Linked DNA regions of Homo sapiens. The protein of the gene in region 1 purifies or fractionates together with the protein of each later gene. This does not show direct contact. Each region holds a gene or a part of one and is shown on either strand. Other genes may lie near its edges. The genes, in order: TNFAIP8 and DLD.

Region 1 (3,825 bases):
GACACCCAGGCTGGAATGCAATGGCACGACCATAGCTCACTGCAGCCTTGAACTCCTGGGCTCGAATGATCTTCCTGATTTTCCCAAGTAGCTGGGACTACAGGTGCATTCCACTGTGCCTAATTTTTAAATTTTTTTTGTAGAGATGGGGGGTCTCACTTTGTTGCCCAGGCCGGTCTTGAACTCCTGGGGTCAACTGACCCACCTCCTTCAACCTCTCAAAGTGCTGTAATTACAGGTGTGAGCCATTGTGCCTAGCCTTAATTTTTCCAATGGGGAAACTGAACTTCAGAAAGATTAAGTAGCTATTGAAGGTTGCACAGACAACCAGGAACAAAGTCATGAGTAGGATCAGTCTCCTGACTCACAGGGTCTTATCTCTGTTACCTACATACAATGTCCCCCTGGGAAAGTCCAGCTTCTAGACTGGCCCCATGTACCACTACAACATCACCACGAATGCCCACCATGATCACTGCTCTCCACACTTCTGTAGACATTCTTCCTGATCCCAGCACACAGCATAAGTAGGTTCCCTGTCACTCACTCTTTCTTTTTCTCTTCTCCATTTGCTTAAAGGAACTAGCTGGAATACAAGTTACCCCTCTTTGAAGTCACTTCTGTCCATCATGACTTTTGGTGAATACCCCCTCTTCTAGACTTTCATAGGGTCCACTGTCTGATCCTCTGAGCTGTACTCATCCCTCTCCATCATGTATTTTTGTACTATGGATGCACATGTGCTGTGTGTGATGCCCTGAACCAAAAACTCTCTGAAGATGGGGTTATCTACACACACATTTTTGCTTCTCCAGGCCCTGCAGAGGAGGTGCTATCTCAGTTAACATTTGTTGTTAGGAGTATCTGAGGCTCAAAGAAGGCAGCAGCAGGCAAGGGAGAGGGGCTGCACCCTGGAAGCAGGAGTCTACTGGACAGTCCATGACAGGCAGAACAGCCTGTGCCTCTGGGGACACCCCTGGTCCCCAGCTTCTCAGCCTGGCTGCGTAGGCCACATGAAAACACATATTGAAGCCAGGTGAGCTGGCACCAAGCATAAATGGCAGGTCAAACTGGAAGGAAAATTCATGAGCTGCTTATTCACTTCTTGACAGTCAACCCTGACTTCAACAAATGTGGTCTGGAGGCTTCAGGCACCTAAAGCTATCAGAGCCACGTAGGGAATTCTGCTTATAGTCTCTTTGCTTCATCACCTTCTTAGAAGAAACTCTGTTCCTAGTTACTTATAAAATTAACTATTATTCACTACAAAGCTGGAGAATGTATTATCATTAAGTCCACATAAACACAACTCCTCCCCTCCCCCATCTTCAAAACCATATAAATACCAGCTTAACTAACAGGCTTTACTCAATCTTACAGATTCCCAGGGCAGCACTCCCTTAGGCAATTTATTCCCAACTCAGCAGTTAGTCACTCAGGACATACTACATCCCTGTACCTCTTCTTCAAGGCTTATAAACTTTTAGAATAAAATTTAAGCAATTGCTCTTTCAGATATCTTGGTCAGCGGCTGGGGGGGCAGTGCGCTGCAGCCCCGCAAATGCTTCCTGAGAAAGGTGTCCTGACTCCCAGAGTGCACCGGGCCTGCTGCAATGTGCTCCAGAGAAAGAGAGGCTGTGGGATGTCTGCTTTTGCAATAGCACATTCTGTGTCAGAATGCTGACTCCCTTCCCACCCACACACATACATACCTTCTCCCCAAGGAAGAGTGTCTGTACCCAACCAACACCCTCAATAGCTAATTTTTCCTGAATGATATTCTCAAAGGAATGAAAACAAGTGAGCTCACTGTTTACCTGCCTCTCACTTGGTCTACAACTTTCAAAATCCGGGATCTAATAGGATCTACTTGCAGAGCTAAATTTTATTTCACAATGTCTCATGTTTTATTCTCTTGAGTTACACGTAGAAGGTGAAACAGGAAATCTTCATTTGTTTAAACATTCATCTGCGTTTTATAAATCCCCCCAAGAGGTAGTGAATGACAACTATACAAACAGACTAGGTCTGTCCTACTTCAAGGAGAGTGCATACAAATACCCAGGATGCTAAAACCTGTGTTTGCAAAAATCCTTGCTTGCAGAACATGTATTAAAGAGGATAGAAAGGGCTTGGCAATCACCTTGCTGGGCCTCAGTGCCTCACCTCTAAAATGAAGAGGTCAGAAAGAAGGATTGGCAAAGTCGCTTTTAGCTCTAAATCATGGTGATTCTATGTGTATTTGGTGGGAGAAGGGCACTTTAAATTACAGAAGACTTCTTACTACAGACCTTCCTTAAACATTAAAGATATACATATCATTTGGTTTTGTTTTAATTCAGCTTACACTATGTTTTAAAGAACAATCTTCTCTAAATGAAGACAGGTCTATAACCACACTAATCTCACTGACTTACAAGTTGCTAGCATAAAGACAGAAATGCTGACAAATAAATGATTTATAGGTAAATCCAGCAATTCTGCAGTGTTCTGAAATGCAATCGCTGGGTCCTGAGTTTTTCTGGCTCTACTGCATTCTCTTTCACCCACCCACTTTTTGGCTACTTCCTGGATCACCAACAGTCAGGAGCAGGAAATTTAATCATCCATATAATCCTGACTGTTCAATGGCGTAAGGTGGGGGCAAGAAAGGTAGGATGCATATTCAATATGATAAAAATTTCAGAAGTGAGGGGAAAAAAGCTCCAAATGCATTTAAGTTTACAGAGCTGGAGGTGTCTGGCAATGCCAAGTTATCAAGTGATGTCCACTGTAGAGGAGAGAGTATGATAGATCTCTAAATGGATTTTCCACTTTTAGTCCTTGTCAGCACACAACACTCCAAGCCTAATGACTACATAAAAGGAAACAGATAAGCACGTCAAAGTCCGGTGTTTAAGAGCATATGCTGTACCTTTTACATTATGTATGACATCAAGGTCAGCTATACCCCTTGGTTTCATCAGAGCTGAACCACTGCTTTAACCTCCTTTTCTCTTCATTCCCTCTGCAAAGCAAAGGCTGGGGAAGGGCAGGAATAGGGGAGAAAACTTACAAAATAGTCCTTAGTGATGAATGATATTATATAAGCTGCCACACCATGTGAGGTTAAAACAGAGTACTACACAGTGTGGTAGCTTATAAAATATCATTGGGATTCTTATTACAGAAGAGGATATTAATCACCACTACGGAACAACTAAACTTTTTTTTTTTTGCCAAGGATTAACTTTAAAGAATGGAGACCATTCACTCAATCTACAACATTTAATGAGCACCTTTTACTCTGTAGGTCCTAGACATACAGCGGGGAATAAAACAGACATTGTTTTTCCCTGCAGAGCTTGTGGTCTAGAAGAGATGTTAAGCAGTGTGGGGAGAGCCAGCAAGGAAAGGAACAGGTGCTCTGAGAGAGGGCGACAGGGGATCTGAGTTTAGGTTCAGAAAAAGCCTCTTTAAAGAGCTGACCAAGAAAAGGAGGTCAGGTGGAGAGAAGGATATTTTGGGCAGGAAGACCAGCAAGTGCCAATGTCCTAGAATGGGGAGCTTGAGTTCTTCTATATGCAGAAAAGAAGGAGCCAGGAAGGATATGGGCTGACTGGTGTAGGAGGAGCCCAAGGTGGAAGGCGGGGCATTCTGCAGTAGGAATGACACCTGTTCCACAGACACAGGGAGGATAGATGTGGACGGAGATGAGTCTGTCAGTCTGGGAACAGGACGTTGAGGGAGTTATCTAATGGCTACTGTTTTCTTTGTGAAATAGCAGGCCTGGTGAGGCATGAGAGTAAGAACTGGGTGAGGTGGTGGTGGGAAATGGCTACTATG
Region 2 (3,825 bases), on another chromosome or scaffold:
TCTACTAAAAATACAAAAATTAGCCGGGCGTGCTGGCGGGCGCCTGTAGTCTCAGCTACTTGGGAGGCTGAGGCAGGAGAATCACTTGAACCCGGGAGGCAGAAGTTGCAGTGAGCCGAGATCGCGCCACTGCACTCCAGCCTGGGCGACACAGCAAGACTCGGACTCAAAAAAAAAAAAAAAGAAAAACAAAAATACTAACAATTAAAGGGAAGCCTAAGAAAGGGGAACTTGCATAATATGGAGAATTCAGCCCAAAGAGCAGATGTAAAAATGGAAGAATATGAAATCACAGAAGTTAGGCAAAGTGTTTCAAAGGCAAGAAAATCAGCAATGCTAATTACTGCCAAATAAAGCAGTGAAGAAATTAGTCCAACAGATTGAGCAATAAATAGATTCATGCCCTAAGAGCAATTTATTGGCACAAGCCATAGACTGAGTGAGTGGAAGTTGATGAAATAAAGCATGGACAACTCTTTTGAGAAGCTGGGTTTTGAAGGAAAAGTGCGAACAAAATTGGTAACTCAAGAAGGACATGGGACCAAGATAAGGAGCATTTATGTGCACACAAACCTGTGTTAATGAGTGCAAATGCATCACAGGTACACACATAGAAGCACATGAAATTGTAAATAAAAGGAAGGAGTTTGAAGACTGAAAAATACAAGAATAAAAATCACAAAACCAAGTCTCTGAAAAGGCAGATGATGTGCTACCAAGCACAAGTAAAGGGATTAGTCTTAGGGAAAATGGCATTTCCACAGTAATAGGAGAGGTAATCAAAAGGATAGGTGTAACAACAGGTAAAAGCATTATCAAATTTAGGACATCAACTTGAGGGAGTTCTCATCTGATTTCTCTTTTATGTAATATTTAAAAGACAAGGTCATCCACAGGCAGAGCAGACAGTATACAAGCAGAGATTTGAGAAGAGTAGAAAATGAAAATGGCCATTGCAGAGACCAGGGCAGTGTACCATCTTAGGAAATAATAAACTGTCAGCAAGGCTGAGGTTCTTGTTAAGGTTTGTGCCAAGAATTAATACAAGTACCAATGAGTAGGGTGTGTTTTTCTCCAGGTGTAGTCAACAGCCTGGAAATAGCATAAAAAAGGCAGACTGCTGCATTCAAACCGAACTAGAGTTTTGCCAAGCAGATATGACAGAACAGTGAGACAAGCAACTCAAGGACATCTGTAAGAGTGTGGTTAAAGTGATGGACTATGGCATCTAAGCTGATCAGGAACGCAGTCAAGATTGGAAAGGGAAGATTGCAAAAAAGTAGATCTATGGACTAGAAAACCTAAAAAAGGGTACAAAGTACACTATGAATAACTGAGTAAAAGAGGAAAGGAGGTCATGGTTACATAATAAAATATCTGAATTTATTATTTCAGAAGTAGAGCAATTCCTGGTGTTTACAAGGCACAGTGACTCTAAAATGGAGGGAGGTCATTGGAAATGTGTGGAAAGCTGCCAGATGGACAAGAAGGGAGAACAAGGCAGACAGAAGGTCTAAAATAACATGGTGTTCAAAGAAATGCAAGTAGTTTGACATTTCTAAAACCTAAGTTAAGAGGCATCAAGATGAGGATAGAGAAGGGAAGAGCCAAATCATGTATGTGATGGTAAAGAGAATAATCTTTATTTGGAATGCAATTTGCCCAGGATAAAAGCTGTCCTCAAATATCTGAATGGCTGTCATATTAAAAAAGAATTCGACCAGTTCTAGGAAATGGAAGGGTGGAAGGTACAAGGAAACAGACTAAAATAAAGGAGAACATTCTAAATGAGTAAATACATAAATAGGTTGTCTTGAAAAAAACAAAAGTAAACTCTTTATTACTAGAAGTGTTTAAGCAAAACTCAATGCTGATCAGCCTGTAATGTTATACAAAAAATCAAAAAGGGGACCTTTAAGTCCCTTCCAACTCCAAGGAGGTAATAAGAGGCAGAAAGACAACACTTACCAATTCTACACCTATTACTCCTGCACCAATAACAACCATCTTTTCTGGAACTTTTTTTAAAGATAAAGCACCTGTAGATGACACTATTGTATCTTCATCTATCTGTAAGAAAAACAAAAGATATAATCAAAATAATTTGAAAAAACCTAGTACAGTCGACCCTCCATATCCATGGGTTCCAAATTTGCAGATTTAACCAACCATTAATTGAAAATATTCAGGAAAAAAATTGATGGTTGCATCTGTACTGAACATGTACACATGGTTTTTTTGTCATTATTCCCTAAACAATACAGCATAGGAACTACTTGCATAGCATTTACAGTGTATTAGGTATTATAAGTAATCCAGAGATGACTTAAAGTATACAGGAGGAAGTATGCAGATTATATGCAAATACTATGTCATTTTATGTAAGGCACTTGAGCATCTGTGGGTTTTGGTATCCAAGGGGGGTCCTGGAACCAATCCTCCAAGGATATGAAGAGATAAATGTATTTATAAACTGTGATCTCAGTAGAATCACTAAAAATACTAAGTCATTTATTTGTTTTGAGGTATCTATATACCTAATTTCATCAAATCCCATTAAAAACACTGACTTTAAATTTTATCCACCAATATTCCAAACGCAATGGTCAATTTTAACTTCATACTGTATTCAAACATATCTTAATATAAAGTGTTCTATAGCTGGTCAGAATCACTGCAGAATAAAGACAGGTAACTTCCCAAAGCTGAATGACCATCAAAATATAGTATTTCAGTCAGAAATCTCTCAAAGTTCACAAATAGCATAAATAACTTATAAAACGTATTTCTAAAGAAAAGTTGTAATGGTTGTAAATTATGAAGCATAAATACCGTGATTCCAGGAAAAGGAGTAACTTCTGAACCCGTGGCTATAAGAATGTTCTTTGTATCAATAACCTGAGTGCCGCCATCAGCTTTCGTAGCAGTGACTTGATTTTTGCCAGTTATCTTTCCATATCCATTGACATGAACAACCTTTACAAAATAATCTTTATAAATTCACAAAGTTTAAAGTAATTTGTTTGATAAATCATTCAAAGGAAAAATTACTCTGTAAATAATTTATCTAAAACAAAATGCTTCCTTACTTAGTAATGCTACACCATGGTGCAGCAAAAAAATCTGTGATATATGTCAGGGAAATCTATTTCAGGTTAGCAAGCTATTTTAAATTAAATAAATATTCCCCTGTAACCAAGTTCAAATATCATCACTCTATAATGCAAAGTTTAATTTGTATTCAAAGTAAAGCAGAAATCTGAATATTAAACACTGACCTTATTCTGTTTGAATAAGTGGGCAATTCCACCTGTTAAAGCTTTTACTGCAGTACTCTTCTGCTCCATCATCTTGTCTAAATTCAAGCGAACTTCGGACACTGTAATTTGTTCAATTAATCTTTAGTTCTTAGCTAAATTCTTGAAGCAATATGCAGTGTTTTTCACTCACCAACTGGAAAATTTCAACCTAATGCTTATAAAAGGCAGTATTAAAGTTTCAAAATGTAATAACTTATAATTATAGTTGACAAAAGGCCAACATCATTGTATCACAGAAACAGAACCTATCAAACACTATAAAATGTCTACCTTGGGTAAAAAGGCAGTCCAAAATAAAACATTATATCCCACTGTGATAACATATCCTCTGAACACTTTACGATGGTTATAAGTCTGGAAGATATGTAAGTAGAAATGACAAAGTAAAACATCATCTGAAATTTTAAATAAAGGAAAATGCTAGATTTCATGAAACAAAACAAATAAAAAATACACGTTTAAAAATTTCAAATACAGAAGCTTAACATTAAAAAGTTTAATCACC

The links.
Region 2: the proteins of TNFAIP8 (region 1) and DLD fractionate together in Homo sapiens (co-fractionation; one large-scale study listed by BioGRID). This does not show direct contact.

Annotation. Positions count from the first base shown.
Region 1 is NC_000005.10:119,358,949-119,362,773, reverse strand, and holds part of TNFAIP8 (tumor necrosis factor alpha-induced protein 8), read right to left. Parts: intron 1-3,825. UniProt on the Homo sapiens protein: Acts as a negative mediator of apoptosis and may play a role in tumor progression.
Region 2 is NC_000007.14:107,904,512-107,908,336, reverse strand, and holds part of DLD (dihydrolipoyl dehydrogenase, mitochondrial isoform 1 precursor), read right to left. Parts: intron 3,380-3,825; coding exon 3,279-3,379; intron 2,977-3,278; coding exon 2,833-2,976; intron 2,071-2,832; coding exon 1,969-2,070; intron 1-1,968. UniProt on the Homo sapiens protein: Lipoamide dehydrogenase is a component of the glycine cleavage system as well as an E3 component of three alpha-ketoacid dehydrogenase complexes (pyruvate-, alpha-ketoglutarate-, and branched-chain amino acid-dehydrogenase complex).